Linked DNA regions of Homo sapiens. The protein of the gene in region 2 interacts with the protein of the main gene of each other region in a biochemical or structural test. Each region holds a gene or a part of one and is shown on either strand. Other genes may lie near its edges.

What was found.
Region 1: the proteins of TOPBP1 (region 2) and ZBTB17 form a complex in vitro, tested with the Homo sapiens proteins (one study listed by BioGRID).
Region 3: the proteins of TOPBP1 (region 2) and TICRR form a complex in vitro, tested with the Homo sapiens proteins (2 studies listed by BioGRID).
Region 4: the proteins of TOPBP1 (region 2) and MUTYH form a complex in vitro, tested with the Homo sapiens proteins (one study listed by BioGRID).

What each region holds. Positions count from the first base shown.
Region 1 is NC_000001.11:15,940,578-15,945,504, forward strand, and holds the end of ZBTB17 (zinc finger and BTB domain-containing protein 17), read right to left. Parts: intron 4,626-4,927; coding exon 4,360-4,625; intron 4,263-4,359; coding exon 4,120-4,262; intron 4,024-4,119; coding exon 3,723-4,023; intron 3,319-3,722; coding exon 3,231-3,318; intron 3,139-3,230; coding exon 3,022-3,138; intron 2,943-3,021; coding exon 2,822-2,942; intron 2,618-2,821; coding exon 2,487-2,617; intron 2,162-2,486; coding exon 1,952-2,161; intron 1,865-1,951; coding exon of another isoform or gene 1,844-1,864; coding exon 1,754-1,843; intron 1,676-1,753; coding exon 1,392-1,675; 3' UTR 1,292-1,391; downstream 1-1,291. UniProt on the Homo sapiens protein: Transcription factor that can function as an activator or repressor depending on its binding partners, and by targeting negative regulators of cell cycle progression.
Region 2 is NC_000003.12:133,651,221-133,659,414, forward strand, and holds part of TOPBP1 (DNA topoisomerase 2-binding protein 1), read right to left. Parts: intron 7,931-8,194; coding exon 7,796-7,930; intron 6,722-7,795; coding exon 6,578-6,721; intron 5,638-6,577; coding exon 5,456-5,637; intron 4,267-5,455; coding exon 4,070-4,266; intron 2,305-4,069; coding exon 2,125-2,304; intron 1,410-2,124; coding exon 1,243-1,409; intron 1-1,242. UniProt on the Homo sapiens protein: Scaffold protein that acts as a key protein-protein adapter in DNA replication and DNA repair. Composed of multiple BRCT domains, which specifically recognize and bind phosphorylated proteins, bringing proteins together into functional combinations.
Region 3 is NC_000015.10:89,570,318-89,578,903, forward strand, and holds the start of TICRR (treslin), read left to right. Parts: upstream 1-5,151; 5' UTR 5,152-5,269; coding exon 5,270-5,923; intron 5,924-8,586.
Region 4 is NC_000001.11:45,329,258-45,337,451, forward strand, and holds part of MUTYH (adenine DNA glycosylase), read right to left. Parts: intron 5,711-8,194; exon of another isoform or gene 5,570-5,710; intron 5,255-5,569; coding exon of another isoform or gene 5,249-5,254; coding exon 5,134-5,248; intron 4,377-5,133; exon of another isoform or gene 4,347-4,376; coding exon of another isoform or gene 4,305-4,346; coding exon 4,156-4,304; intron 4,068-4,155; coding exon 4,028-4,067; intron 3,914-4,027; coding exon 3,840-3,913; intron 3,703-3,839; coding exon 3,661-3,702; intron 3,578-3,660; coding exon 3,506-3,577; intron 3,431-3,505; coding exon 3,317-3,430; intron 3,232-3,316; coding exon 3,134-3,231; intron 3,054-3,133; coding exon 2,909-3,053; intron 2,830-2,908; coding exon 2,766-2,829; intron 2,593-2,765; coding exon 2,404-2,592; intron 2,300-2,403; coding exon 2,163-2,299; intron 2,078-2,162; coding exon 1,925-2,077; intron 1,301-1,924; coding exon 1,259-1,300; intron 812-1,258; coding exon of another isoform or gene 809-811; exon of another isoform or gene 632-808; intron 181-631; coding exon 49-180; 3' UTR 1-48. UniProt on the Homo sapiens protein: Involved in oxidative DNA damage repair. Initiates repair of A*oxoG to C*G by removing the inappropriately paired adenine base from the DNA backbone. Possesses both adenine and 2-OH-A DNA glycosylase activities.

The DNA.
Region 1 (4,927 bases), on a different chromosome or scaffold from region 2:
TCCCTTCTGCCTCCTAGTCAGTCAGTCCTCCTCCCCAAGGATAATTTTATCTTGTACAAAGGAGATTTTTGTCACGGACACTGAACTTAACCATTTCTCACTCTTGTGGTGTCTTCAGAGTCCTAACTGGTTCTTAGGTAATGTGGAAGGAAGGCACTTCCAATTTTGATACAGAATATAACCACACCCCATGCCATCTCAGAAACATTTTAGCAAGCTTTGGTTTCTTGTCTCTCTCTTGCCCCCTCTTCCCTTCTCCCAGTGTGAAGCAGGCTGACTCCTGCAGAGGCAGTGGCCTCCTGGGGCCCCTGGGGGCTCATTTGATCCCGTCTCTGCCTCCAGACAGGAGAATGGGAGTTGGGGACAGGCTTCCCCTGCAGCTGGATTCTCTAGAAGCTGTGGAGTTGGGACAGGGACATGGGGACTATAAAGTTGGTGGTCTCACTTGGAATACCAATGGGCTCCTACAAATGGGCCTGTCCTGGTGTGAGAAGATAGCATCCCCCTCTGAACGGTGGGCCATAGATGCCGGGGCCACTGTGGGGGGACGAGATGGTACCTCCTGACTCCTTGCTGACAGGAGTGAGAAAGCTGTTCCACCAGCTCCCTACCTCCCCATCAAAGCCCCTGGCTGCTCCTTCCTGTCCCTCTGGGCCCCCAGCCTGGTGGCAGAGATGCCATCTTTTGAACCTTCCCAAAAGATGATGGCACCGGCTTGGCCTTAGTCCTCGGGCCAGGTAACCCTGAAGCAAGTGTGGCTTCCATCTGCTCCCTTAGGCCCATCAGAGCCAGGGCAGTGGCCTGGGCCTGGCACTCTCCTTGGCCTACCTTGCCACTCTGGCTGGAAGGACCCCTGAGCCAGGCCTGGCAGCAGTGGCCTGTGAGCCAGGCTCGCTCTGGGTTGCCTGTACCCTGGTAAGCAGTTGGTGGCCGCCCCTGCTGGTCCCTTCCCCAACTTCCCAACCTCTCCCCAACCTGGGCCGAGGGGGAGCAGGGTCATAGCTGTGGGGCGAGGGGAGGCCAGGCCCTAAAGATGAACAGGTGAGAAGCCTCCAAACAAGATGGGATGAGGGCATGGGGCACGTGGTGCCGAGGTCTCTCCAGCCTGAGTGTACTGCCCACTCCTCAACTTGGGGCAAAGCAGCCAGCCTGGCTCTGATTCTAGTCGCATTCAGCAAGAGGGACGGGCTGACCTTCCCAGGAAGGCTGGTTCCTGGGTGGTACAGCCTTTCTGTGGCATCAGTTGTAGCTGCCAGCTCCCCACCCACCCCACAGGGACCTATAGGCAGCATTAGAAAATAATCCAATTTATTCTCTCTAGGGAACAGGCCACCCTTCCCGGTTCCAGGGTGCCATCCATCCTTAAATAAACAGTCAGAAGGGCCGCCAGCTCACTCGGCAGGCGGGGGACATTCAGGAGCTGTAGGGGAGGTCTCTGCCAGTGCGGGCTGGCCCTCAGCCCCGTCGCGAGGGCGGAAGACCAGCTCCCCAGCCTGCAGCACCTGCCCGGCAGGCCACGTGCCACCTGGCCCATACTGCTGATAGAAGTCCGCGTCTGTCTGGAACATGACCAGTGCCTGGGCTGTGTGGATTCGCACATGCTGAGCCAGGCTGTTGGCATCCAGAAACTTGTCCCCACAGGAGTCACAGGCGTAGAGGATGTGAGTGTTGGGGTCTGTGGAGGTGGGGCAGCAGTCAGAGTGGGAAGGACCCCGGGCTCTGCCCACATTCACACCCGGGTGGCCCCCCTCACCTTCTTCCTGCACTTGCTTCACAGCTTTGCTGATCTCGGCCTTCAGGACTTCCGTCTCATCGGCTGTCACTGCAGCTCCCACCGGCACCACTGCGGGCAGAGTCGCAGGGCCTAAGGTGAAGGCACGGGCACTGCCCCATCATCGCCACCCTGGCAGCAAGCTGCCTGTGACTTCCCTCTGCTGCCCACAGCCCGCACCTGTGAGCTGAGTGACGGCTGTCGCTGCCAGTGCCTCGGTAGCCAGCGTGACCATGTCATCCACAGTGACCACGCTGACCTCACTGCCCTCCTCGGGCTCCAGGATCTTGATGCCTGCCTTGCCCTGGTGCACGGTCTTCACGTGGGAGCGCAGGTTGTCTACCCGGTTGAAGCCACGCCCACACTTATCACACAGGTAAGGCTTCTCTCCTGGGGGAGCAAGGTTCTCTCTTGCCTTTGTGGGAAGGGGCCGCAGGGATGGGGTGGGAGGCCCTCAATGACTCGTTTGCCCAGCAACCCTGTCTTTTACAGCAGGAGGTGCTCTGGGGTGGCTGCACGGGTGCCTCTGGTGACACTGGCACCTCTGGAAGCTCTAGGAAAATGGGGTCCTCATTTGAACAGAACTGCCTTCAAGGCCACCTGCAGCAAGAGCTAGCACCCGAGGCTGGGGTCTGGGGGGTCCCTTCCTTCCCCCTGCTCCCCACCTGGCAGCAGGGCCTGGGAAGGAACAGGCATGGTAGGGGCCACAGCTCACCAGTGTGAATGATGATGTGCTTGGACAGGTCCCCCACGTTCACGAAGGCCTTGCTGCACACGCTGCACTTGTGTGGGCGGATGTTGTCGTGGTGGCGAATATGATTGGCCAACTGGCTGGACTGGACGAATCTGTGGGGCCACAGGAAGGGACTCGCATGGAACTGCCCCAACCTGGGCCTCCTGCCTCACCCTCTAGACTGAAAAGGACCCCTAGGACCAGAGCCTGGGGCGTGGGCAGCAGTCAGCTCAGTCCCCAGCCAAGCCCCCAGTTTGTCTTCTGAGCCCCCTCACTGTGGGGTGTCTGGCCAGTGGGTGTGGGGGAGGGGGCAGGACCTCTTGCCGCAGCGCTCGCAGACGTAGGGCTTCTCCCCGGTGTGCTGGCGCACGTGGGCGATGAGGGAGCTGGCCTGGGTGAAGGCCTTACCGCACATCACACACTGGCATGGCTTCTCACCTGGGGACCGGGCAGAAGGTGTTGGTGCCTGCTCCTCTCCGTGCCCTCCCAGTCCTGGGCATGGCCGCTCACCACCCACCTGTGTGAATGCGGACGTGCCGCTGCAGAGCGCCGGGGTCTGCAAACTGTCGCTGGCAGTGGATGCACACGTAGGGCTTCTCCCCGCTGTGGATCCGAAGGTGCCGCTTCAGGTTCCCTGTGGCGAGACCGAGGGCGAACCTGGCGTGGGGCACCACCGGTGGCCGAGGAGCAGGGGTGTGAGGGCAGCCAGGGCAGCCCTGGCCCTACCTGAGGTGGTGAACTGCTTCCCACACTCTCGGCACTTGAGGGGCCCGTCAGCGATGTGGATCTTCAGGTGGGCCTTCAGGTTCCCTACCTGTGCCCAGGGAGGGGTCAGGGGGGCCACCCCACAGAGCTCGGCCCCGGGCCCCCTCACCTGCCCCTCCCACAAAGGAACAATTGACTCTCAGGCTTGCCAGGGTCCGTGAAGGGCTCTATCTCTCCTGGGTCAGGAGAGGTCCCAGGTCCCAGCGGTGAGAGGTAAGCCGCCCCACCCCATTTTTTCAGGACCAAACCCCGCCCTGAGTCGGCCTGCCCTCCGCAGAGCAACCGGGAGCTCCCCCGCGGAAGTGGCTCTCGCTGCGCCTGTTTCCTGGGTGAACAAGCTGATGAGCTCCTGGAGGCCGGGGCTGTGCTCCCCGCCCGCCCCACCACGTGGCATGCATGCGGCTGCGGCCACCGGCGGCTGCCAGGCGCTGGTTCCGGGAGGGGTCCGCACACCTGGTTGAACTTCTTGTCGCAGTGTGGGCACTTGTGCTCCTTGTCCGTGTCGTGGGTCTCCAGGTGGCGCATCTTGGAAGTGGGGTCGGAGAAGGAGCGGCCGCAGTAGTCGCACTGGTAGGGCTTCTCGCCGCTGTGCACCAGCTGGTGGCGCTTGAGGTTGCCCGAGGTGGTGAAGAGCTTGCCGCAGTCCTCGCAGCGGTAGCGCGCCTCGCCCGAGTGCCGCTTCTTGTGCAGGTTCAGCAGGCTGATGAGGCGGTAGCTCTTCCCGCACTCCTCGCAGCCGTAGGGCTTCAGAGGGCTGCAGGGCCAGAAGGCGACAGGAGGCAGGGCTCGCTGGGGCGTGAAAGGCCGGGCCTGGCAGGGGCCGGGGTAGGAGGCCGGCTTGGGGCAGTACCTGTGCGTCTTCTCATGGGCCTTGCACGCGGCCGGGTCGGAAAAGGCCTTGCTGCACTCCCGGCACGAGAAGGGCTTCTCCCCCGTGTGGATGCGGATGTGCCGCTTGAAGTTCCCCGTGTGCGTGAACTCCTTCCCACAGTCCTGTGGGTGCAGCGGGGAAGCGGGGTGTGAGGAGCAGCCGGTGGGAGGCCGGAGGGGAGGGACGCTGGCTGGGAGGGCTGGCCATAGTCTCCCTCACCTCGCACTTGTGGATGACGGAGCCGTAGGCCTTGGACTCCGTGCGGTCGCCGTAGGTGCCTGAGCGCAGGCCCCGGGCCTCGGAGCCGAGCTCCTGCCCCGAGTCTGTGCCCGCTGACTCCTCATTCTCGTTCTCCTCGGGGGCCTCTCCGTTCTCCAGCTGGGAACCCTCCTCCTTGACCTCAGCTGGCCCTGCGCCCTCCTCCTCTTGCTCCTCTTGCTCCTTTTGCTCCTCTTCCCCTTTCCGGGCGGGCTCCACCTCCATTTCTGCGGAGAAAAGGGCAAGCATGGAGGCGGCAGCCCTCTCTGCCTGAGCGCACGTGAGGGGCGCCGGCAACATGTGGAAGGGACAGTAAATGGCCCCAGCACTGGCCAAGGAAAGCCCCCGGGGGGGCCTGTGAACTGGGTATTTGCTGCTTGCGGGATGCAGGTAGGGGGCTTAGCCAGCTGGGGTGGGCGCTGTCGGCCAGCAGGCACTGGAGGGTTGCCGTGGGTGGCAAGGCACCCCTGCACGGTGCTGAAAGCCGGGAAGCAGCAGAAGCTCCAGGGCTTTGAAGGACGTGCCTGTG
Region 2 (8,194 bases):
TTGTTGACCAGGCCGGAGTGCAATGGCGCAATCTCGGCTCACTGTAACCTCCGCCTCCTGGGTTCAAGTGATTCTCCTACCTCAGCCTCCCAAGCAGCTGGGATTACAGGGGCCTGCCACAACGCCCAGCTAATTTTTTTTGTATTTTTAGTAGAGACAGGGTTTCACCATGTTGGCCAGGCTGGTCTCCAACTCCTGACCTCAGGTATCTGCCCACCTTGGCCTCCCAAAAGTGCTGGGATTACAGGCATGAGCCACCAAGCCCAGCTCCAATTTCCCTTCTTAACAATAAGGTAGGGTTAAATTTTTGCTACTCTGTGAAAATTAGTGCACAGCCAAGTCATTCTACAAATAGGAATACATTAAGTATTCCAATCTAAGACAGCGGAAAAAGTATAGCATATGCTGTTTCCATCAACAAACTTATAAGACAGTTATTCATATACTAAAAAACTAAATAACCCAAGAAATACCAAACAAAGCAGTGGCTCTAATGGTGAGGAATACAGACTTTGGAGTAGATAACTGGCCACTTAATGTCTCTCTGTGTGACTCTGAACAAGAATTTTAATTCTCTAAGTCTTACCCTCAAGATAATATCCATTTTAGAGTTATTTGTGGGACTTAAATGCGATTTTATATATATATTAACACACATAAAATGATTAGCACAGTGTCTAATACACTGTAAACACTTGGATGATAGTTTAAAGTCCAAACCTGGGCAACATAGTGAGACCTTGTCTCTACAAAAAAATTTTAAAAATTAGCCAGGTGTAGTGGCACATGCCTGTAGTTCTAACTGCTCGGGAGACTGAGGGGTGGCTGATGCCCAGGAGTTCAAGGTTACAGGAAGTTATGATTGTGCCACTGCATCCCAGCCTGGGCAACAGAGTGAGACCCTAACTCAAAAAAATTAAAAAAAAAAAATCCAATAAGTTGTTCAGAAACTAAGTGCTCTCGAAATATAGCAGATGAAAAGATTAATGTAGTTAGGAGGGTTCAGAGAAGAGTTAAAACCTGAAATGAACTTTTAAAAGATAACAGAGGAAGATACCTTGCAGGCAGAGGGACTCTCGCAGCCAAAGGATGGACATGGTCTAGTAAGTGCATCTACTTAGCTAGAGTGGAGGGTTTACATAGATAGTAAGGAGCAAGCCCAACTCTGAAGGGTCTTCAAAGTCAGGCTAGGAAATGCTAATGTATATCATCTACTGCATGTATTATATAATAAAGACGTACCCGACAACCATCTAATAAATCTTCAGGTGCTTGAAATGCACTGACATCCAGATTTTCTAGATTTTCAAGTGTAGGCTCCAGTTTGCTGTTAAGTGAATTACATATTGATTCACTTACGCAACTTGCATTTATGTTGGAAATATTGCTGACATCTGAAAGAGTACGACCTACATATTTTGAAAACGTATAAATTTATGGGAGATAAAATAATCATGATTACATATTGTCTATGGATTAACTTTTCTTACAAATATAGGGCAATAAACAACTTCCAAAGTAAGATTCAGGGGTGTTTACTGAAATCTTAGTGGCAAAGTATAAAAAGGGAAAATGAAATTAATTAAGCCTCCTATCTTATTTAAATGAAAATAGATTTAACACATTTTCTTAATAGTGTCTTGTTTCCCATAAAAATCTGAAGTTGCTGACTTTAAGGTCCAAGAAGCTTACATTTGAAAAAATATTTTAAACATTTTGCCAACACGACACCTACAAAATAGAAATGGTTTTAATTTTTATACAAATACAGATGATCTATAACTGCAGCAAAACTGTAAATTAAGGAAAGATTAATATATGCATGTAATGTTTAAAAGATTAATACTTTTATCTTAAGCCCCCAGCTACCATTGTTCTTAATTTCTTTGATCATCTTTTGCATTACAACAGAGTATAAAAGACAGCATTCATTCATTCTAAAAGAAAATTACGAACAGTTCAGTGCTAACTTTTTATACAATTTGACTATTATACAATTATGCCTAGAAGCACAGCAAACAAGAAAAAGAAATTCCCTATCTCAGTGATCCTATTAACATACTGATTATTACATAGAAATATGACTGTCTTCAGAATAATTATTTTAATCTCAATGAGACTCACTATCAATTGTGTTGATCTGGCTGGTAGGAGTTGAAGAATTGGGCATAGTCTTTGCTTCTGGTCTAGGTTCTGTCTTGTATATGGATTCATCCTGACAAAAACCTTTCTCAATACTGTCAAAAAACCACTGTGTGGTCACACAGTGTACATTCCATCTCTTGGCACACTCATACTTCTGACCTGTGGCGTTCATTAAGAAAGAAATAGAGAAAATAGGAGAAACCAAGAAATGAAAACCATTACAATCTATCTTTGCAGAAATATTCAAATTATAACAGGTTAATATTTTTTTTTTTTTTTTGAGATGGAGTCTCACTCTGTTGCCCAGGCTGGAGTACAGTGGTGAGATCTTGGCTCACTGCAACCTCCACCTCCCTCCTGATCAAGCGATTCTCCTGCCTCAGCCTCCTGAATAGCTAGGATTACAGACGTGTGCCACCATGTCTGGCTAATTTTTTTGTATTTTTAGTAGACACGGGGTTTCACCATGTTGGCTAGGCTGGTCTCAAACTCCTGACCTCAGGTGATTCGCCTGCCTTGGCCTCCCAAAATGCTGGGATTACAAGCGTGAGCAACCGCGCCCGGCTATAACAGGTTATTTCAAAAACCTATCAACAAAATTAAAGTTACCAGTACTTACTCTTAAACAGTATGCTACACAGTTTATTACAAAGTAGTATTTTAGCTTATTGCCTAATTATATTTTCTATGTGTAGTATAAATACATATGCCATGTGAGAGGTTTTATCTTTTATACAAACTGCAGGAAGACAGAAGCAACTGTGGGGTAACTTAATTAATATTGGACTTGGGTTTGCATATAGGCTCCATCACTTAATTTCTTTAAACCAGCTTGTACAATGTGAAAATTGTAAATTTGTGCTATATAATAAATCCCAACTTTGAACAGACTATTCCAATGTCAACAGGCTTCTACTTAAAGTCCAGGATAGATAAGCCAAAAGATAAATTATATTGAAAATATGTATCTTTTATTACCTTAAAAATCTTCAACACAATGTATTTTGAAGCAGTATCACAGAGGAATTGAGGTCAATATGTCACATGAAAGGTTTTTTGGCATTCTTGAGAGAATCAACAATGAACTGTCTTCAGATTCAGAAAAAGAACAGCAGTATCAACTCTACTCACAGTGATCCTATCACAATCAGCCATACTCAAAGTTCTGACTTAAGGACAATTACCATTTAATCGTAATTTCTTCTCAATCTAGATAGCTTAGTAAAACACAGTATACATATAAAGGGCAATAATAAAAACATTAACAAAACTCATCTTTTATCAATTTGTGTATATTTTAAGAGTGCTGATAAAAAATTATCCAGAATAATGTTATGTAACACCAAACTTAATAGCAATTTTAAAGAATTTTTCTTGTTCGTAATGTCTTTTTCATTTTTTACTGCCTCATGTGCCGCAAGGTGTGTCTTCCAGTTAAAACTTTGCAAGATGTTAGAGAAAACATCTTTGCAAGATGTTAGAGAAAACAGTATCAAACTAGATTAATGACATGTCAGAAGTAAAAGCTGTTCTGTAAAGATTTTAAAATATTAAATATTAGTGGCTGGGCACGGTGGCTCATGCCTGTAATCCCAGGACTTTGGGAGGTTGAGGTGGGAAGATCAATTGAGGTCAGTTAGAGACCAGTCTGGCCAACATGGTGAAAGCCCGTCTCTACTAAAAATAAAAAGTTATTCAGGCGTGGTGGCAGGTGCCTGTAATCCCGCTACTCGGGAAGCTGAGTTGGGAGAATCGCTTGATCAAGGGAGGCAGAGGTTGCAGTGAGCTGAGATTGTGCCACTGCCCTCCAGCCTGGGCAATAGAGCAAGACTCTGTCTCAAAATAAATAAATAAATAAATAAAAATAAAATATTAAATACTAGAGAAAATGTTTCATTTGTCCCTTTGTGAAACACAGTTTTACCTTTTGGTTCTTGCACAATGAGGTGTGTACATTCATTCATTTTCAATTGTCCCATGTATTGACCTCCATGCTTAACTGTGAGTTGCTGAACTTCTTTCCTGTCTAAGCCACATAAGCCAGTCACACAGATTATGCAACCAAGAAAAATAGGACACTTGAAATCTTCCATGTTTATATCAGTATATCTAGTTATTTTTCTGTGGGAATCAAATGGTTAAAAAAGAACATATTAAATTTACCAGAAGAATAATGAAAAACAACACAAATATCACTATTGCTTCCCTCATTTTTTAGGATTTATAATCTTTTTTTTACAAAGGAGAACCACCAAAACAGAATTACACTAATTGTTCACCTAGTTCAATAACATGTCTCTAAAACAAAGTAATTGTTTCAGATACAGTCTCTCAAAACCATTTTAAGGGAAAAATATATATTTCCTTAACTCTAGCCCTTGCTGGTCATAGTATATTTTCCAAAATGATAAGTCTGAATCTCTACTTAAAAACCCAAAGGTAATTTGGTTGCCTATTAGATAAATGAACTTTTTAATCTTTCCATTATTCTATACAAGTAAAAGCAATGATTTTTGGCAAAATACCAACAAAAATATCATTATTCTGTTGCCATGCTAGGGAGGTGTGCTGATGAAGTAATCACATTGGGAATGAGAGTTGCTGACATGGAGACATATTTGGGATATGCTGGATGGTGTTGAAAACAAGCCCAGAAAAGTGCCGATATAATTCGTATGCCAATACAATTCTGTGGTGTTTGGTCTTGTGGTTGTTTATCTAGTTGCAGGGGAAACTGAAGTGTGCCCCTTGAAATAGGCTCTAAGCTCCATGAGGGAAGTGACTATCTTGTTTTGCTTACTACATATACCTAATGCCTACCTCAAGTCAGATACGTAAAATGGGCTCAATTAGCATTTATTAAATGATCACATCTCAGCTGATGACTTGCATATGTTTATATTCAACCTTACATATGCCATCTTTTGGAAGGAATGCAACTGCCAAAATGACTAATTTATTATCTATCTTAACATATGGGAATGGTGTTGAAGGATAATGCAACATAAAAGCTACAGAATTGCCAAACTCGTTTTCTCAATTATTTCAGAAATATTTACAGCTGAGAACTTTATCACCAAAGCATTTCCTACTCTGTAGCTAATGCTAAACCCTTGGCCCATTCTATGCCTGTCAACTTATATCTTGGTAATAAGAGCTTGTAGATTCTGCTCTTCCGTTTTCGCTGGAGAAAAGAGTAATGACACTATTTTTTTCCCTGAATAGTAAGTCCAAAGAGTATATCACATGCCAAAAATGATTGAATGCATCATTTTTTCAAATCTAGAAAATATAAAAATGTCTTTCTTACTTCTCTTGTGACTTCTCCCAAAGTGTTTTTATCCAAGAGGGAAGCAAAATAGGTTTCTTCAGGTTTGCAGCAACTAAATATTTTTTGCTACCAACTTCTCCTGCAATAAGGTGAGTTACTGATACATTAAGGTCTCTGTATACTCGTCCGCCCATCATTTGTACATATTTATGAACTTCTTCCTGCAGCCCCAAAAGAGAACACATTAATGCTGAAGCAAACAATATTGCTTCCACTTTTATACACTATCTCATAAATACATTTTGCTGTTGACAGTTTGAATACATAAGTGTTACATAACATTATAAAGTTAAATAATTAACCAAATTATTTTTTGGGAGATAAGTATGAATTATATTTTTAAAATATTATTTTCCTATATTTATCCCTTTCAACTCCATGAATGTATTAAACTATTATACAAAGGATGTATAAATCTTAATCTTTGCTTCTATATAAATATACATGTGTATTTTTAACAACATAAATTATATCTATATAATATATAAATATTTATTTTTAGCCAGGCTTGGTGGTGCATGCCTGTAATTCCAGCTACTCGGGAGGCTGAGGCATGAAGATTACTTGAGCCCAGGAAATCAAGGTTGCAGTGAGTTGTGATTGTGCCACTGCACTCCAGCGTGGGTGACAGTAAGACCCTGTCCCAAATATATATATGTATTTCTATAGCTCTCTCTTAGAATGCTTTTTTTTTTTTTTTTCCAAAACGAAATCTTGCTCTGTCACCCAGGCTGCAGTGCAGTGGCGTGATGTTGGCTCACTGCAACCTCCACCTCCCTGATTCAAACGATTTAGAATCCTTTTTTTTAAAGACTGTCCACCTATAGTGGAAAAATGTAAGTGATTAAAAAATGAGTGTCCTTTTAAATTAAAACAAAAAATTTCAATTAGCCAGTTTTCAACAAAACAAATTCTACTATATTCAATTTACTTAAAAAATGTACATGTATACATATATACACACTGTGGTTGTATACTGAACTTTGTTAAAAGTCACGAACAATAAGCGGAAAGTCTTTTAAGCTATCTTCTATGCAGTGAAAAATTAAGAATAAGAGATAGATATATAAATTGATCAATCATCATGAGATCAATATCTACCCTTTTTTCTTTTTCCAGACTTGTACAAGATATGGTTACATCAGACATAACCATATTATAAACTGGATGTTCGGCTCTTGGGACACATCGCTGGTGGTGCATACAAAATATGACTACTTGAGGACCAACAATTCTGCAGCCAAGCTACAAAAAAGAGAAAAGTTTAAATGAGTTAAGAAGGAAAAGACCACCAGTCTTACAAAATTACATTTTGTAACATTCACCAATTCTTTACCAAAGTTGATGACCACTGTAGAGAAATCAGCAAATCATTACAAGAAAAAAATAAAGATGACTATATAATTTCTCAGAGATACTATACATTAAACACTCACACACAAAAGCAAATCAAACAATGCAAGCTATCAAAAGAAATAAACTTCAGGCCAGGCACAGTGGCTCACGCCTGTAATGCCAGCACTTCAGAGGAGGCCGAGCGGGGGTGGATCACCTGAGGTCAGGAGTTCGAGACCAGCCTGGCCAACATGGTGAAACCCCGTCTCTACTAAAAATACAAAAATTAGTCGGGTGCAGTGGCGGGCACCTGCAGTCCCAGTCTCTAGGGAGGCTGAGGCAAGAGAATTGCTTGAACCCAGGAGGCGGAGGTTGCAGTGAGCTGAGATCACGTCACTGCACTCCAGCCTGGGCGACAGAGTGAGACCCTATAACAAAAGAAAAAAAAAAAGAAAAGAAAAGAAATAAACTTCAAAAGCCCCTTTCACTGAAAACTGCCTTACTGCTTACATCTATAAGCCCAATATTTTGGGAGGCTGAGGTGGGAGGATCACTTGAGTGCAGGAGTTCAAGACCAGCCCAGCCTGGCCAACATCGAGAAACCCTTTCTCTACTAAAAATAAAAAAATCAGCCGGGTGTGTATATACATCTGTAATCCCAGCTACTCAGGAGGCTAAGGCACAAGAATCACTTGAACCAAGGAAGCAGAAGTTGCAGTGGGCTGAGCTTGTGCCACTGCACTAAAGCCTGGGCAACAGAACAAGACTCTGTCTCCAAAAAACAAAAACAAAAACAAACAAACAAACAAAAAAAGCCTACTGTAACATAATTAGCCTTTCAATCCTGGTCTTGCCAAACCAAAAGAATTCCAATGTACTCATAAGTTGCATAGTACTTTATAATCCGCAAAGAATGTATGTCCATTAAAGCAAAGATAAACCAAAAAATAGACTACCAAAGGTACACACTAGAAGTCAGCAAACCTTTTTGAGGTGATCAAAGACAACGCCACTAAAAGGGTCACAGATATAAAGTGATCTATCATTCTCCTTTATCTTCAATGCCTCTTCTTCTGTAATAATCTGAAGATATTCTTCTGATTGGAATTCTTTTATGGACTGAAAGAAAAAATAAAATAAGAATGTACCTGAAATTACTCTCCTGTATTTAGGTCCTATTCAAATTCCATCTCAAATCCAGCCTTTTCCCTATTGAAAGCCACCATCACATCTCACTTAGACCTCTGCAGAAGGCTCCCAAGTGGTCTCTTTTTCCCTTCCTTGCCCTAAATCTGTTCTCTACACAGCAGCTAATAATCTTTTCAAAAACACAAGTCAGATCATGTCACTATCTGCTCAAAACCTAATGTCTTCACACCACAC
Region 3 (8,586 bases), on a different chromosome or scaffold from region 2:
TTTATATTTTTAGTAAAGACAGGGTTTCACCATGTTGGCCAGGCTGGTCTCAAACTCCTGGCCTCAAGTGATCCACTGGCCTCAGCCTCCCAAAGTGTTGGGATTACAGACATGAGCCACTGTGCCTGGCCCAGTTCATATATCTAACTGCATACACACCTGGCATCTCCGCTTGGAGGTCCATTAGGTATCTTCAAGCTAACATGGGTTAACTAGAACCTTTGATATTCTGCACCCTCCTTCCCATCACTTCCTCACTGAGTCTTCTCCACCCTTCATTCCATTTTCAGCCCTAAGCCTAGAAGTCATTATTCTGTTCCACAATCTGTTTGCAAGTTATGTCACCTCCACATTCAAAATATTATATATCCAGAATTCAACAACGGTTCACCATATCCATCACTTGTACCAAGGCCACCATCATAAGCAGACCAGCGGTTTCCACATTTATTTGGTATTTTCCCTGATGAAGACAGAATTATACTTTATGTAATTTGAAATATATAGAAATAGAAGCTGACCCTGCACCCCTAATATATGTATATTTACTAACTGGCAAATTATATGCAGATACCTACTAATATGTATTATAAAACATAAAATAGAAATTTATAAAGGATGACATAAAGAGAAAATAGGCAGTTTTTAAATGTCTTACTAATTGTGATAGCTTCATATGATCATTTTACCTAACATCTCAAGGCACAATATACACTTAGGTAAGGTTTGTGATTAACTATAATAAAAACACGCATTTCAAGTAGGCTTTTTATTTATTCCACATTTCACTTGGACACAAGTGTAAGATTTGATCAAATTGTCTTTTTTAATCTCAAAGTGTGGCTAAAAAAGATCTCATACTAGGAAAACAAGAATGTCAGATCCACCATTTTCATGTGATTTGCTTGTGATTGTATTGTTAATATTAATAATACAACTTCCAACATACGACTTCTTAGCAGGAATCTTGTAAAGCCACTTTTTCTTTTTCTTTTTTTTTTTCTTCTTCTTCTTTTTTTTTTTTTTTTGAGATGGAGTTTCGCTCTTGTTGCCCAGGCTGGAGTGTAATGGTGCGATCTTGGCTCACCACAACCTCCGCCTCGCAAGTTCAAGCAATTCTCCTGCCTCAGTCTCCTGAGTAGCTGGGATTACAGGCATGCGCCACCACGCCCAGCTAATTTTGTATTTTTAGTAGAGATGGAGTTTCTCCATGTTGGTCAGGCTGGTCTCGAACTCCCAACCTCAGGTGATCCGCCTGCCTCAGCCTCCCAAAGTGCTGGAATTACAGGCGTGAGCCACCGCACCCGGCCACACTTGTTCATTTTTTGAGACTCGTTTTAGTTAAAACTCAATTGGATAATCCTTCAATCCATTTAATCAGATTAATGAAAAATGCAGTAGTCACAAAACACTGGTACCCAATGAATGAGTGCATTGTCAGATAAAAAATAAGAGAAACGGAAGTTCAATATTTTCTTCCTGCACCCAGTGGGTTGATTGCCTTGGGCACTTCTTTGTGTGTTAGCTCTTCCCTTTGGAAAACAGTCCCCAACATGGTCTGCAGCATGTCCTCACAGGTCTCACTGCTTCATTCTTGCCCCTACATATTCAATTTTCCACCTAGTAGCCAGAGCGCTCTTCTCCAAACACAAATCATATCAAGTCCCTCCCGTCCTCAAAACCTTCCCCTGGCTTCCTAACATTCTCAGTAGAATATCCAAGCTACCTCTGTGGTCTCCAGAGCCTCTCACTGGCCCCACTGCCTCCCTGGCCTTTCTCTCATCCCACCACCTGCTCACCACCACCCAGCCCCACTGCCCCACTGCCCTCCTTCCATTCCTCAAACTCTCTATGTTCCTTCCTGTCTGGGTGTTTCAAAGATGCCCCAATCACTTTTCCTCCCTGCTCTTTCCTGTCCCTATCTCACCCGCCATTGTTAAACTCCTGCTTACCCCTAAAATCTCAGTTTAAATCTCACTGCGTTAGGTTGTTGCTTATCCCTTAACACCTCAAGGCACAATATACATTTCAGTAAGGTTTGTGATGCAATATGTCACAAAATGCAATATGTGAATACATTAAAGTTTAAACAAAAATCTTAACCAGCTCACCCATTGTAGTCCCTTATCCTATGCTTCACTTTCCCCTTAAAATTCTTTTCAGACCGGGTGGTGGCTCATGCCTGTAATCCCAGCACTTTGGGAGGCTGAGGTGGGTGGATCACCTGAGGCCAGGAGTTCCAGACCAGCCTGGCCAACATGGCGAAACCCCATCTCTACCAAAAGTACAAAAAATTAGTGGGGTATGGTGGTGGGCACCTGTATTCCCAGCTACTCGGGAGACTGAGGCAAGAGAATTGCTTGAACCCGGGAGGTGGAGGCTGCAGTGAGCCAAGATCACGCTGTTGCACTCCAGCCTGGGCAACAAGAGCAAAACTCCGTCTCAAAAAACAAAACAAAACAAAACAAAAAAACCTCTTTTCGGAAAAAAAATTTTTTTCATATTATGTTCATCTGTATTATTATCTGTCTAATGTCTGATCCCCTACCTATTAGACTGGAAATTCCATTAGGGCAGGAATGGTGCCTGGTATATAGTAAGTGTTGTTGGATGAGTGAAATGAATGACTGGCATAAGGATGAAAGGTGTTATGAGCTGAGCTGTGTCCTCCCAAAAAGATATGTTGAGGTCCTGGCTGGGTGCAGTGGCTCACTTCTGTAATCCTAGCACTTTGGGAGGCCGAGGCAGGTGGATCACGAGGTCAGGAGATCGAGACCATCCTGGCTAACATGGTGAAACCCTGTCTCTACTAAAAATACAAAAAAAAAAAAATAGTCGGGTGTGGTGGCTGGCGCCTGTAGTCCCAGCTACTTGGGAGGCTGAGGCAGGAGAATGGCGGGAACCCAGGAGGTGGAGCTTGCAGTGAGCCAAGATCGCGCCACCGCACTCCAGCCTGGACGACAGAGCGAGACTCCATCTCAAAAAAAAAAAAAAAAAAGATATGTTAAGGTCCTCCTATCCCCCAGCATCCCCCAGAATGTGATCTTATTTGAAAATAGGGTCTTGTAGAAGTAAGCAAGTTAAAATAAAGTCATTAGGGTGGGCCCTAATCCAACATGACTGGTGTCCTTATAAAAGGGAAGTTTGGACACAGAGACAGCCATGCACAGAGGGAAGATGACGGGAAGACACACAGGAAGAACACCAAGAATTGCCAGCAAACATCAGAAACTAGAAGAGTCAAAGGATGATTCTCCCCTAGAGCCATGGGGGCTGGAGGGGAGCAAGTGCATGCCAACACTTTGATTTTGGACATCAAGCCTTCAGAACTGTGAGGCAATTTTTGGGTTTGATCCTTTGTTATGGCAGGCAGCCCTAGAAAACTCAACCAAAAGAGAAAATTGTTGTACATGAGGCAGTAATTGCTGAGGACTTTGATTGGAGAAGCCAAGGCACATAAAGGAAGTTGTAGCCAAAGCATATAAAGGAAGTTGTTCTGTTTCCAGGTGGAAACAGAATTACTTAGCAAGCAGAATTCAATGGTGTGGAGTATTGGATCAATCTCCCTAAACACATATTCAGGTAACCGACCTTCATTTTTTGTCCCCTTCTTCTTTCCAAATACCATATTCCACTGATCCTAGAGGCACATCTCACATCTCTGAAATCAGCCTGTTCACTGGTGTCCAGCAAGAGGAAGTGTAAAAAAGTTTCAAAAAAAATCACATGGAGAGACCATCACAGACAACTTCCGGTACACAATATTATATTAACAGTTTAAAAATATGCATATAAATGCATTTCTATCTATATATAACTTCTATCTATGATTATCTATCTATATATAATTCCTTTTTTTTTTGTTTTGTTTTTTTTTTTTTAGTAGAGACAGGGTTTCACTGTGTTAGCCAGGATGGTCTCGATCTCCTGACCTGGTGATTCGCCCGCCTCGGCCTCCCAAAGTGCTGGGATTACAGGCGTGAGCCACCGTGCCCGGCCTATCTATATATAATTCTATGTATTCTATCTATATAGCGATATATAATTTCTATCTGTAATGCAAATCTACATGTGATTTCTATCTATATATACATGTAGATAGAAAATTTAGGGAATTCACTGCAGGTGCTGCTTGCAGTCCACTTTTAAAACCTAACATTACATAATAAAACACTATTTTAAGAAGCTGCACTAGGCCGGGCTTGGTGGCTCACGCCTGTAATCCCAGCACTTTGGGAGGCCAAGTCGGGTGGATCACAAGGTCAGGAGTTTGAGACCAGCCTGGCCAACATGGTGAAACTCCGTCTTTACTAAAAATACAAAAATTAGTCTGGGGTGGTGGCGTGCGCCTGTAGTCCTATTCAGGAGGCTGAGGCAGGAGGATCGCTTGAACCCGGGAGGTGGAGGTTGCAGTGAGCCAAGATCGTGTCAATGCACTCCAGCCTAGGAGACAGAGCGAGACTCCGTTTCAAAAAAAAAAAAAAAAAAAAAAAAAAAAAAAAAGGAGCTGCACGATGCTCCCCTTGGGCGTGTACCATACCTTATTTAACCATTCCCAAACTGTTTCCATTTTTTCTGATGTTAAATAAACTCTAAGATGTACAGACGTCTTTTATCTGGCTCTCCGATTACCTTCTGCAGATAAACTCCTAGAAGTTACTGGGGCAAAGGGAGTGAACCTTTAATTTTTAATAAAATTTTTTAAATTACAGAAAAAGCCGTAGTCGTCAGATTCTACTTCCTAGGCGGTCCACAGGGATTTCAACAAGTTCGATTCAAACCATCCCAAATTCCCTCCCGGCACTAAGTTTTCCTCGGTCTTGGGAAACGTGGCCCCGCAGTCCGCACTCACGACTGCGCACAAACGCTGGCCTCTTTCCAATGGCGAAACTTCTCGACACGCCCCCGAGGCACCACCTCTTTAAAATTTAAAACGAAGGCCCAGGCCAATGAATGCTAAGCTTCTCTCGGACCACAGAGACCCGCCCACCGTCACTCCCTCCACCAATCAGACTGAAGTTTTCTCCACTGCCCCTCCAATCACCGCCAAAAATGGAAGTTGCTCTCGTAACTTACGTAAGGCAAGCAGCCAATAGGAGCAAACCTTGGAAACTAGCTCCCCCAATAGCAGCAGTTCCTGGAGAGCGCGGGAGCCTTTCGACCAGGGTCCCAAAGGAAAGCAGTGAGTGGTGCTGTTTCCCTGAAGGAAGGGACTAAGGGACGGTGGCGCGGGCCCGGACCGGGGCCCCGGGGCGGCGGCACGGCCGATATGGCATGCTGTCACAAAGTAATGCTGCTGCTGGACACCGCGGGCGGCGCCGCCCGCCACAGCCGGGTCCGGCGGGCCGCCCTGCGCCTCCTCACCTATCTGAGTTGCCGATTCGGCCTGGCCAGGGTCCACTGGGCCTTCAAGTTCTTTGACTCGCAGGGGGCGCGGAGCCGGCCGTCCCGCGTGTCTGACTTCCGCGAGCTGGGGTCCCGCTCGTGGGAGGACTTTGAGGAGGAGCTGGAGGCCAGGCTCGAGGATCGCGCCCACCTGCCCGGCCCGGCGCCCAGGGCCACCCACACGCACGGCGCCCTGATGGAGACGCTGCTAGACTACCAGTGGGACCGGCCCGAGATCACGTCGCCCACGAAGCCGATCCTGCGGAGCAGCGGGAGGAGACTGCTGGACGTGGAGAGCGAGGCCAAGGAGGCCGAGGCCGCGCTCGGGGGCTTGGTGAACGCCGTCTTCCTCCTGGCCCCCTGTCCGCACTCGCAGAGGGAGCTGCTGCAGTTCGTGTCTGGGTGCGAGGCCCAGGCCCAGCGCCTGCCGCCCACCCCTAAGCAGGTGATGGAGAAGTTGTTGCCCAAGAGAGTCCGGGAAGTCATGGTCGCCCGAAAAATCACCTTCTACTGGGTGGATACCACCGAATGGTCTAAGGTAAGGAAGGTTACTGTCGTCTCAGATGGCGTGCACGGTGCTTTCCTTGCTAACCAGAACTTGGCAGCGTCCTTAGAACAGCCACAGACCCCGAATGAGACTAATATGACTATGCGTCCCTTCGGAAGGAAACAAATAAATAGGAACAGTTTTCACAACAAAATGGGTAGTTCCTCACTACCTACTGTTTAAGACCCCTCACAATTTGGGCCCTACCTGCCTTCCCAGACTTGATTTTCCTACACACTACATCTACTCTAGCATATTGAAGTCCAGTCCAGAAAATCAACAGGTCTGGACTGCTTGTTTTGTGTTATGTGTGTTGTTCAATCTGCCTGGAATGCCAGTTCTCACTCTTCCAGGCCAGTCTTAACTTCACTTACCCTTTAAGGCTTCTTCTCCCAGTGACAACTGCTCAGTCCAGCGTCTGAATTGCCATACACATTTTGTGTGGCACTTAACCATTTCTCCATATGTTTTGATTATGCACATCTCTCACCCTCCATCTAGTCTAAAAATACCTCAGAGGCAAGCAGCAGGTTTTAACACAATACCCAGGGGTGTGTGTGTATGTGTGTGTGTATATATATATATATATATATATATATATATATATATATACACACACACACATATATATACACATTTATTTATATACATATATATATTTATTTATTATTATTTTTTGAGACAGTGTATGTCGCCCAGGCTGGAATGCAGTGGCTCACTGCAACCTCCACCCCTCCGGGTTCAAGCGATTCTCATGCCTCAGCCTCCCAAGTAGCTGAGACTACAGGCCCACGCCACCATGCCTGGCTAATTTTTTTGTATTTTCAGTGGAGACCAGGTTCCATGCTGCCCAGGCTGGTCTCAAACTCTGGCCTCAGGCAATCCGCCTGCCTTGGCCTCCCGAAGTGCCAGGATTATAGGTGTGAGCCACCACGCCCAGCCACCCAGATGTGTATTAAACGTTGTAGGTGTTCAGTCAGTATTGGCTGACTAAATGAGTACATTCTTGCGTACATTCTTGCAAACTTAAAGTCTTAAATGGCTAATTTGGATTTTTGCTGAGGCGGTGAGGCCCCCTGCTCCTGTTAAGTGCTAGGATAAGTATATACTTTTGCCTTCATCCTTCTCATTGCACTTCATTTAGTCAACAAATGTTCATTGAGAAGCCAGTAACATCTGAGTGCCTACCACACTGTTTGAGCTGCTGGGGACATGGTAACCAAAGCAGGGAACAGATTAAACAGATAAGCAAGTGACAATTTCAAATCATGCTCTGGAGAAAATAAAATGGGGTGAGAGGATGGGAGTAGAAGGTGGTTATTGTATACAGAGTGGTAGTGAGGGAAGGCCTTTTTTTTTTTTTTTTTTTTTTTTTTTGAGACAGAGTCTCGCTTTGTCACCCAGGCTGGAGTGCAGTGGCGTGATCTCGGCTCACTGCAACCTTCACCTCCTGGGTTCAAGCAATTCTCCTGCCTCAGCCTCCCAAGTAGCTGGGATTATAAGCGGGCGCCACCAGGCCTGGCTAATTTTTTTGTATTTTTAGTAGAGACGGAGTTTCACCATGCTACCCACCCTGGTCTCAAACTCCTGAGCTCAGGCAGTCCGCCAACCTCAGCCTCCCAAAGTGCTAGGATTACAGGCATGAGCCACCGTGCCTGGCAGGGAAGGCCTTTTTGAGCAGAGAATTGAATGGTGAAGGAGGAGGAACTCAAAGGTAGGTAAAGAACATTCCAGGTGAGGAGACAAGCAGGTGTAAGGATTTCAGCTGGAAATGAACTTAGTTTGTTTCAGAAACAAAAAGGCAAGGAGTGCTGAGACCTAGTAGGCAAGGGGAGCAGTGTGAGAGAAAGTCAGAAAGCAGGAGAGGCCGATCTGTAGGGCCAAGGTCAAAAATGTGGATTTTGTTCTAATTAATTAATGGGAAGGCTTTGGAATGTGGTTTAACCAAGTGAAAGATGTGATTCCACTTAATGGAAATACATGTCACTAACCCAGGAGTGAGTTAAATTGCAAGATTACAGATGGAAAATGAGCAAGCATTTAAATAATAATATGGTATGTTAAAATTTTCAAAGTGCTTTCACATGCGAAGCCCAAAAAAGGCGTGGCAAATGCAAAATAAGGCAGCAGTGGTTTGTCAAGAAAAGGAAGGGACAAAAAGTGTTTAAGGGGATGGTAAACATTTGATGGGGAAAATGAAATCCTAGATATATTAAAATTTAAGGCAGCCAGTCAAGCCTTAGACACAGTATACAACACATTGCTCAGCTGGAAACAATTGATATCACATCAAAGACTTTCTTCTGGAATTTTATTATGTTAAATACTGGCTAGAAATAAGTTAGATGGGGCTTGATGGATCTTGGAGATTCTTTGTCTCTCTTTTTTTCTCTTTAATCTCTCTCTCTCTTTTTTTTTTTGAATAGCATTGAAATAAGTGGGTTGACTGGATCTTTTTAAAGATCCCTTCCAGGTCTGATGTACCGTCGACTGAGGGGATGGGTCATCTCTGAGGCTTCCCTTCTTACATCGGCTGTATCCCCTAAGAAAATGCCCATCAGATACTCAAGTTTTTCTGGAATTTTCTTCTGCTGAAGATCTATCATTTTCTATTCAAAAACCTGCCCAGCCATGCTGGGCAAAAGGAAGGTTTG
Region 4 (8,194 bases), on a different chromosome or scaffold from region 2:
CACTTTACTAACAACAGGATTCTCAGGGAATGGGGGCTTTCAGAGGTGTCACTGGGCTGCACTGTTGAGGCTGTGTGCATCAGTGGAGATGTGAGACCGAAAGAAATTATCCAGGACTTGCTGGCCCATGCGGGGCTTTTTCCGACTGCACGGAGAGGACACCTGGGACCTTTTGGAACCCTGTGAAAAAATGGAAGGAGGGAGGCCTTGTAGTTGGGGGAGGGGGAGCAGAGAATCCTCTCCTTGTCCTCTCTCCCTTTCCCCGACTCTACTGATCTAGCTAGGCTTAGCCTGGAATGCTGTAGAGCTTTCATCCTGCCTCAAGTATCTGCCCCATCAATCAACCCTCCAAAAGGCTGCCTGAGGGAATCGAATTGTCCTAAAAATGCAAATCTGACTCCTCTCTCCTCCACCTAAAATGAGTCAGCAGCCTAGGGCTCACACCCTGACTGACCCAGCAGGCCCTGCTGACCTTTCCAGCTAAACCAACTGCTCACAGCTCCTTGAGCACTGCAGCCTGCACTGGGCTCCACCTTTGCTCACACTACTCTTGGGACTGGAAAGAACATCGCTACGGTTGATTCCCCTCCCAAACCTGAAGAAAAGGATTCATTTCTAGGACGAAGATTACCAGCTGCTTCCTCCAAACAGCCTTTCCTGATCCGTCTCCCAATTAGAACTGATAGCTCCCATGGATGGGTGTGGTGGCTCACGCCTGTAATCCCAGCACTTTGGGAGGCCAAGATGGGCAGATCACTTGAGGTCAGGAGTTCGAGACCAGCCTAGTCAACATGGTGAAACCCTGTCTCTACTAAAAATACAAAAATTAGTTGGGTGTGGTAGCAGGCACCTGTAATCCCAGCTACTTGGGAGACTGAGGCAGGAGAATCGCTTTAATCCAGTTGTGGGAGATTGCAGTGAGCCGAGATCGGGCCACTGCACTCTAGCTTGGGTGACAGTGAGACTGTCTCAAAAAAAAAAAAAAAAAAAAAAAAGAACTGATGGCTCCACAATTCATATCCCACAAAACTCAGTACAGGCATTTCACACACCTGTGACACTGGAGAGTCCTCATCATTTTTTTCCTTTCCCTCTACCCTGCACCCCACAATGGAAGGTCTCCAGGTCAAGAACTATTCCTCCCTCCAGTGAAGCCTGGAGTGGAGAATGTTCACCCAGACATTCGTTAGTTAACTGACTAAAAACCTATGGACTCAGGCCTGGGGAGACACGGTTGGGAGAGGCCTAGGAGACTTACCATACAGGTCCCTGGCTGTTGGCCCTGATACACACGGAAAACCTAGACAAGAAGACAGGGAGGTGAGGGCTGGCACTTTTTGCAAAAGAGATAAACCGGTGTTCTGCCCTTAACTTCATGTCCCAGTACTTTTGTTTAAAATATGCTTTTTTGGCCAGGCATGGTGGCTCACGCCTATAATCCCAGCATTTTGGGAGGCCAAGTCGGGTGGATCACTTGAGGCCAGGAGTTTGAGACCAGCCTGGCCAACATGGTGAAACCCCATCTCTAAAAATACAAAAAATCATGGCTGGGTGTGGTAGCTCACACCTGTAATCCCAGCATTCTGGGAGGCTGAGGCGGGCGGATCACTTGAGGTCAAGAGTTGGAGACCAGCCTGGCCAGCATGGTGAAACCTCATCTCTACTAAAAATACAAAAATTAGCCAGGCATGGTGGCGGGCGCCTGTAATCCGAGCTACTCAGGAAGCTGAGGCAGGAGAATCACTTGAACCCGGGAGATGGAGGTTGCAGTCAACCGAGATAGCGCCATTGCACTCCAGCCTGGGCAACAGAGCGATTCTCCGTCTCAAAAAAAAATGCTTTTTTTCCTGTTTACACAGTAATATATTCATGTAGAACATGTAGGAAACACAAGGAAGTACAACAAAGACAACAAAGGTAGTGCCTTTTTCATGGCGGTGGAAACAGCTGCGGTGTGAAATTCCTCCTGCGTCAGCCAGCGAGCACCTGGTGGTACGGTGGTCACTGGGGTCTGCCCTTCCAAGGCCAGCCCATATACTTGATATGTCAGCTTGATGTGAGAGAAGGTGTGGACAACCTGGAGGAAGGGTCAAGGGGTTCAAATAGGCCTGTGGATATAGCCTCAAAAGCCAACATCCTTGGCTATTCCGCTGCTCACTTACCTCCCCAAGGTGCCGGAGGTGCGTGGCTGGGAGGGGCCCAGCCCAACGCTGTAGTTCCTGCAGCAGGGCCTTGCGCTGAAGCTGCTCTGAGGGCTCCCAGGTCACGGACGGGAACTCCCACAGTCCTGCCAGCAGACCTGAGAGGGAGGGCAGCCAGGCAGGGGTCAGGCCTCAGCTGCCGATTCCCTCCATTCTCTCTTGTTACTCATGCCACTGCCCTCCACGCCCAGTATCCAGGTACCTGAGTTGGGCCTCTGCACCAGCAGAATTTGGGCCCCAAGGGCCCCAGGCTGTTCCAGAACACAGGTGGCAGAGCTCTCCTCCCTGGGGGGCTTGCGGCTGGCCTTTCTGGGGAAGTTGACCACTCCCAGGGTCTGGTCCCAGGGCTCCGAGGGAGGCAGGCACAGGTGGCACTGTCCAGTGTTGGGAGCTGGGAACGGAGATCCCCGAACCCTACTCAAGCCAAGAGGGCTTTAGGGGCCAACCTAGAGAGTGGGCTTTGGCCGGGTTCTGCAGAATCTTACTCAGGTTAGAGGAAGAACTGGAATGGGGCTTCTGACTGGGCCAGGAAGGGTTGGGGTGGGGGCTAGGTTTGGTGCTCACCACACTCCTCCACGTCAGGACTGCCCGACAGGCTCCCTGAGGCTAAGAGCTGTTCCTGCTCCACCTGAGAGGCACAGGGTTGAGTGTCATAGGGCAGAGTCACTCCTTAGGACTTCTCACTGCCCCTTCCCCAGTAGGCTTACTCTCTGGCGTGCCCGGCACAGGCTCTCCACAGGGCACTGGCTGCACAGTGGGCGCTGTGGGGTACACACTGTGGCCCCTAGCTCCATGGCTGCTTGGTTGAAATCTCCTGGCCGGGCTGGGTCCACCAGCTGCTGGGCTAGACCCCTAAAAGAAGGGAACACTGCTGTGAAGCAGAGCTCCTTTGCAGACACCCCTGAAGCACCCTTGTTACCCCAACATCCTACCAGAGCTGCTGGGAAACAAGGGTGCTGCTGGGATCAGCACCAATGGCTCGGACACGGCACAGCACCCGTGCTACGTTGCCATCCACCACACCGGTTGCCTGGCACAGAGGGGCCAAAGAGTTAGCCTGGGCTGGGAGGAAGGAGGCTGGGCACGCACAAAGTGGGGGTGGGCTGTGAGATCACCTGGCCAAAGGCGATAGAGGCAATGGCCCCAGCTGTGTAGCGCCCCACGCCAGGCAGGAGCTGCTGCAGGGTCTCTGCTGTACGTGGCATGTGGCCCCCTAGCTCCTCTACCACCTGATTGGAGTGCAAGACTCAAGATTATAAGACACCCAAGACTCCTGGGTTCCTACCCTCCTGCCATCCCCTTACCTTCCGAGCTCCCTCCTGCAGCCGCCGGCCACGAGAATAGTAGCCCAGGCCAGCCCAGAGTTGATTCACCTCCTGTGGGTAGGATCAGAGGTCAAAGAGATCACCCGTCAGTCCCTCTATTGTTCCTATTTCCCCTACCCTAGGGTGGCTCTCACCTCCAGGGAAGCACTGGCCAGGTCCTGCAGTGTAGGCCACTTCTATAGCCACAGGCAGGCAGAAAGAGACAAGGTCAAGGGTGAAGGTGGTAGAGGAAGCCTTCTCTACACCCACCCCAAAGTAGAGGCTCTCATCTGGGGTCTGACCCATGACCCTTCCCTTCCTCCCCTGGAGTCACCTGCATCCATCCGGTATAGTAGTTGATCACAGTGGCAACCTGGGTCTGCTGCAGCATGACCTCTGAGACCCACACTGGGGGAAAGGGGTTGGCATGAGGACACTGCTGACCTGCCCCTACCTGGCCCACAGCCCCCAGACCCAAGGGCCTCGAGGCAAAGTGGCCCTGCTCTCAGGAGATGTACTGACCAGCATATGCCCGCCTGTCCAGGTCCATCTCATCTTCTGCCTGTCAATGCAACCCCAGATGAGGAGTTAGGGTGGAGGGGGCTGGGTGCCTGCCTCCCACCCACTGTCCCTGCTCCTCGCCTGCCTACCCGTCTTCTCCATGGTAGGTCCCGTTTCTCTTGGTCGTACCAGCTTAGCAGGCTCCCTCGGAAGGCTGTGACTTCAGCTACGTCTCTGAATAGATGGTATGAGGAGACAGAGGCCTGCAATACCACCTCTTCCGGCTGCCTGGCCAGGCCTGCTGGGGCCCCAGGACACTCAGCAATCATCCCTGCACAGGCTGTGCATCAGGGTCTTGGGACACAGCAGCCTGTGGCAGTATGCTCCCACTTAGGGCTTCCCCCAACTAACCCCCTTAAGCTTTGGAGCTGGAGTCAGACCAGAGTTATGTAATTGTGTGTAGCTGTGGCTAAGTTTCTGGCCTTAATTTTCTCAGGGTGGTACTACTGGCTTGTCTCTGAGCCATAATGAAAACCTAATAGTTTTAGCCAGCTAGAATGTATACTGGTGCAGGACCTTCCTATTCACAAAACACTTTCAGGCTCATAAACTCATTTGGTCCCATGAAAGCCACATGAGGGAGGAAATGCTGAACTACTGCTCCATTTTACTGGTAAGAAAGCAGCCATTCAGAGCAATTGTCCCAATGTCACACAGCAATACAGTCAGAATTACACCCTCAGTGAGTCTCTTTTGTTTTGAGACAAGAGTCTGGCTCTGTTGCCCAGACTGAAATGCAGTTGCATTATCTTGACTCAGTGCAACTTCTGCCTTCCAGGCTCAAGCGATCCTGTCACCTCAGCTTCCCGAGTAGCTGGGACTACAGACGCTCACCACCACGCGAGCATAGAGAGGGGATTTCGCCATGTTACCCAAGCTGGTCTCAAACTCCTGGGCTCAAGGGATCCACCTGCCTCGGCCTCCCAAAGTGCTGGGATTACAGGTGTGAGCCACCGCACCTGGCCCTTAGTAAGTCTCTTAATGTCTTGATACGTATCACAATCCCTTCCCAGCCTGAATCTGCCTTTCATGGCCAATGAGCCTTGGGCCACAACCTAGTTCCTTACCATCACAGGCAGAAGGCTTGGCCTGACTGTTGTTCTTAGCATGCTTCTGCCTCCCTTCCTGGCTGGCTGCCTGCTTCCTGTGACCACTTCCCACGGCTGCTCGTGGCTTCCTCATGATGGCCTGAAACAAAAAGACCCAGCCAAAGCAGTCAGTCACAATGAGGCCAAATTTTGAGGCCTTCCAAGGGTGATAGCTATCTCCCTCTCATCCACCATTCACATGGGGTCCAGCTTCTCTCAAGCACTCTCAAGATGCTCACGGGTTTACTCTTGGCTGGCTGCAGCACTGAGATACAACTAGTATAGCTGAGCAAGTGGCCTCAAGGGGGCCGGCGTTACAGCCCTGGAGACATGCAAAGACTGTGAGGCCAGGGCTGGGATGGGTCAAGGATGAAAGCCTCCTGTTTGGGAGCATTTGTGTATCTCTGATGCTTACTGTGACTGTGTGTGTGGATAGGGGTTGTTTAGGTGTGTCTGGGAGAATGGGGGTAGGCGGTTTCTCTGCCTCTTAGAGATGTAGCATGGTTACACTGAAACAGCCTGTAGTAGTCATTAAGTCCAAAACCTTCATTTTATCCTAGAAGAAACCAAGGATCAGAGGGACAAAAGATCTGTCTGAGAACAGATGGCAAATCAGTGGGAGAACAGAGATTAGCTATTTTTATTCCTAATCTAGTAAACCATAGGTGGCTGACCATCAACAATGAGAAAATGTGCCTGGTTGATTTTCACTGCTCCCTAACTGTTATAATGGCCGCCTTTTCTCTAACAGCTAAAATTAGTTGATATTTTGTGAGTGCCTACTCTATGTCAGACCCCATGAAGAGCTTTACCGGATCTCTCAATCTCCTGGTGACTCTATGAGGTATGTACTAGTATCACCTCCACCTTAGTTATAAGGAAATTGAGGTTTATGGAGATTAAGCGACTTGTTCTTTCAAATCCACGACCAGCATTCTTATACTGTGATAAAATGCAGTCCCTGCTAAGCCTCTGTATCAAACTCTCCCCCCAAACCTTTGACTTTACCACCTCATTTTCATCAAAAGAGCTTGCCTCCTCCTTCAGAAAAAAAAAAACCAACTTCAAATCTACCTCCATTTGCACTGTCTTACCCTCCTCCTCTTCAGGGTCCTGCTCCTCCAATCCCGTCTAACTGTTGGAACTCAGAAACTAATACCCCAGGCCAGGCACGGTGGCTCATGCCTGTAATCCCAACACTGCGGGAGGCTAAGGCAGGCAGATCACTTGAGGCCAGGAGTTCGAGACCAGCCTGGCCAACATGGCGAAACCCCATCTCTACTAAAAATCCAAAAAAATTAGCCAGACGTGCTCGCTTGAACCCAGGAGGCAGAGCTTGCAGTGAGCTGAGATCATGCCACTGCACAGCCTGGGCAACAAAGACAGAGCAAGACTCTGTCTCAAAAAAAAAGAAAAGAAAAGAAACCAATACCCCAAAATATGGCCCTCTGACATGCTGAACTCAAGAAGCCGCAAGGTCTCTCTGATCCTTCCACCCCAGACTCTCCCAAAGCCAGGATAAAGTTGTTCTCTGGAACTCTTTATCTGCCTAAAGTCCAAACTCACTAAAAAGAATACTTGTTTTTTCTTCCCCTCCCAATAAGACTAACATGTAACCACACCTGAACAAACCCTTTCACAGGTATTGTGTACCTCAGGATCACTCAAATTCCAAAGAGAACTATTAACAAGTCAACCTCTGTCCCCATTCCATTCTCTCTAGTAATCCTTTATTGCCCTTCAACAGAATCTCCTTCTGGCCAAAGTTCGGTTTATTTAAAAACAAATAGAGCTGGACATGCTGGCTCAGGCCTGTAATCCCAGCACTTTGGGAGGCCAAGGCAGGAGGATTACTTGAGCCCAGGAGTTCGAGATTAGGCTTGCAACATAGCAAGACCCCGTCTCTACAAAAACAGAAAAACAGAATTTCTCTTCTACCCCTTGTCAGGCCTCTGAGCCCAAGCTAAGCCATCATATCCTCAGTAACCTGCACTTATACATCCAGATGGCCTGAAGCAACTGAAGATCTACAAAAGAAGTGAAAATAGCCTTAACTGATCACATTCCACCACTGTGATTTGTTTCTGCCCCACGCTAACTGATCAATGTACTTGGTAATCTCCCCCCCACCCTTAAGAAGGTTCTTTATAATCTCCCCACCCTTGAGAATGTACTTTGTGAGATCCACCCCCTGCCCCCAAAACATTGCTCTTAACTCCAATGCCTATCCCAAAACCTATAAGAACTAATGATAATTCCACCACCCTTTGCTGACTCCTTTTTTTCAGACTCAGCCTGTCTGCACCCAGGTGAAATAAACAGCCTTGTTGCTCAGACAAAGCCTGTTTGGTGGTCTCTTCACATGGACACACGTGAGACACCCCTCCCATAATCTGTTTTGCCAGATGGTATATAAACTCACGAACTCTGTAGGGAGATGGGTAATCACTTTATGGTTCTCCCAATGTGCATGTTAATAAATTTGTATGCCTTTTCTCCAGTTAACCTGCCTTTTGTGAGCTGATTTTTCAGCAGATCTTCAGAGGGCAAAGGGAAAGATTTTCCCCTTGGCTCGTAACACAATCAAATCCCACCCTCCTTCCCTTCATAGCCAAACTTCCTTCACCAAACCTGCTTACTTCCACATTCATTCTACAATCTATTCTCCAAAGAGCAAAGGAATCTTTTCCAGATCACGTCACTTCCTTCCTTATAACCTTCAATGGTTTCCCATTCTTTTTTTTTTTTTTGGGATGGGGTCTCACTCTGTCACCCAGGCTGGAGTGCAGTGGTGTGATCTTGGCTCACTGCAACCTCTGCTTCCTCGGCTCAAGCAATCCTCCCACCCCAATACCCCACCCCAACTCCAAGCAGCTGGGACCACAGGCGCACACCACCACCACATCCAGCTAATTTTTGTATTTTTGTTAGAGACAGGGTTTCACCATGTTGCCCAGGCTAGTCTCCACCTCCAGAGCTCAAGCAATCAACCCGCCTCGGCCTCCCAAAGTGCTGGGATACAGGCATGAGCCACGGCGCC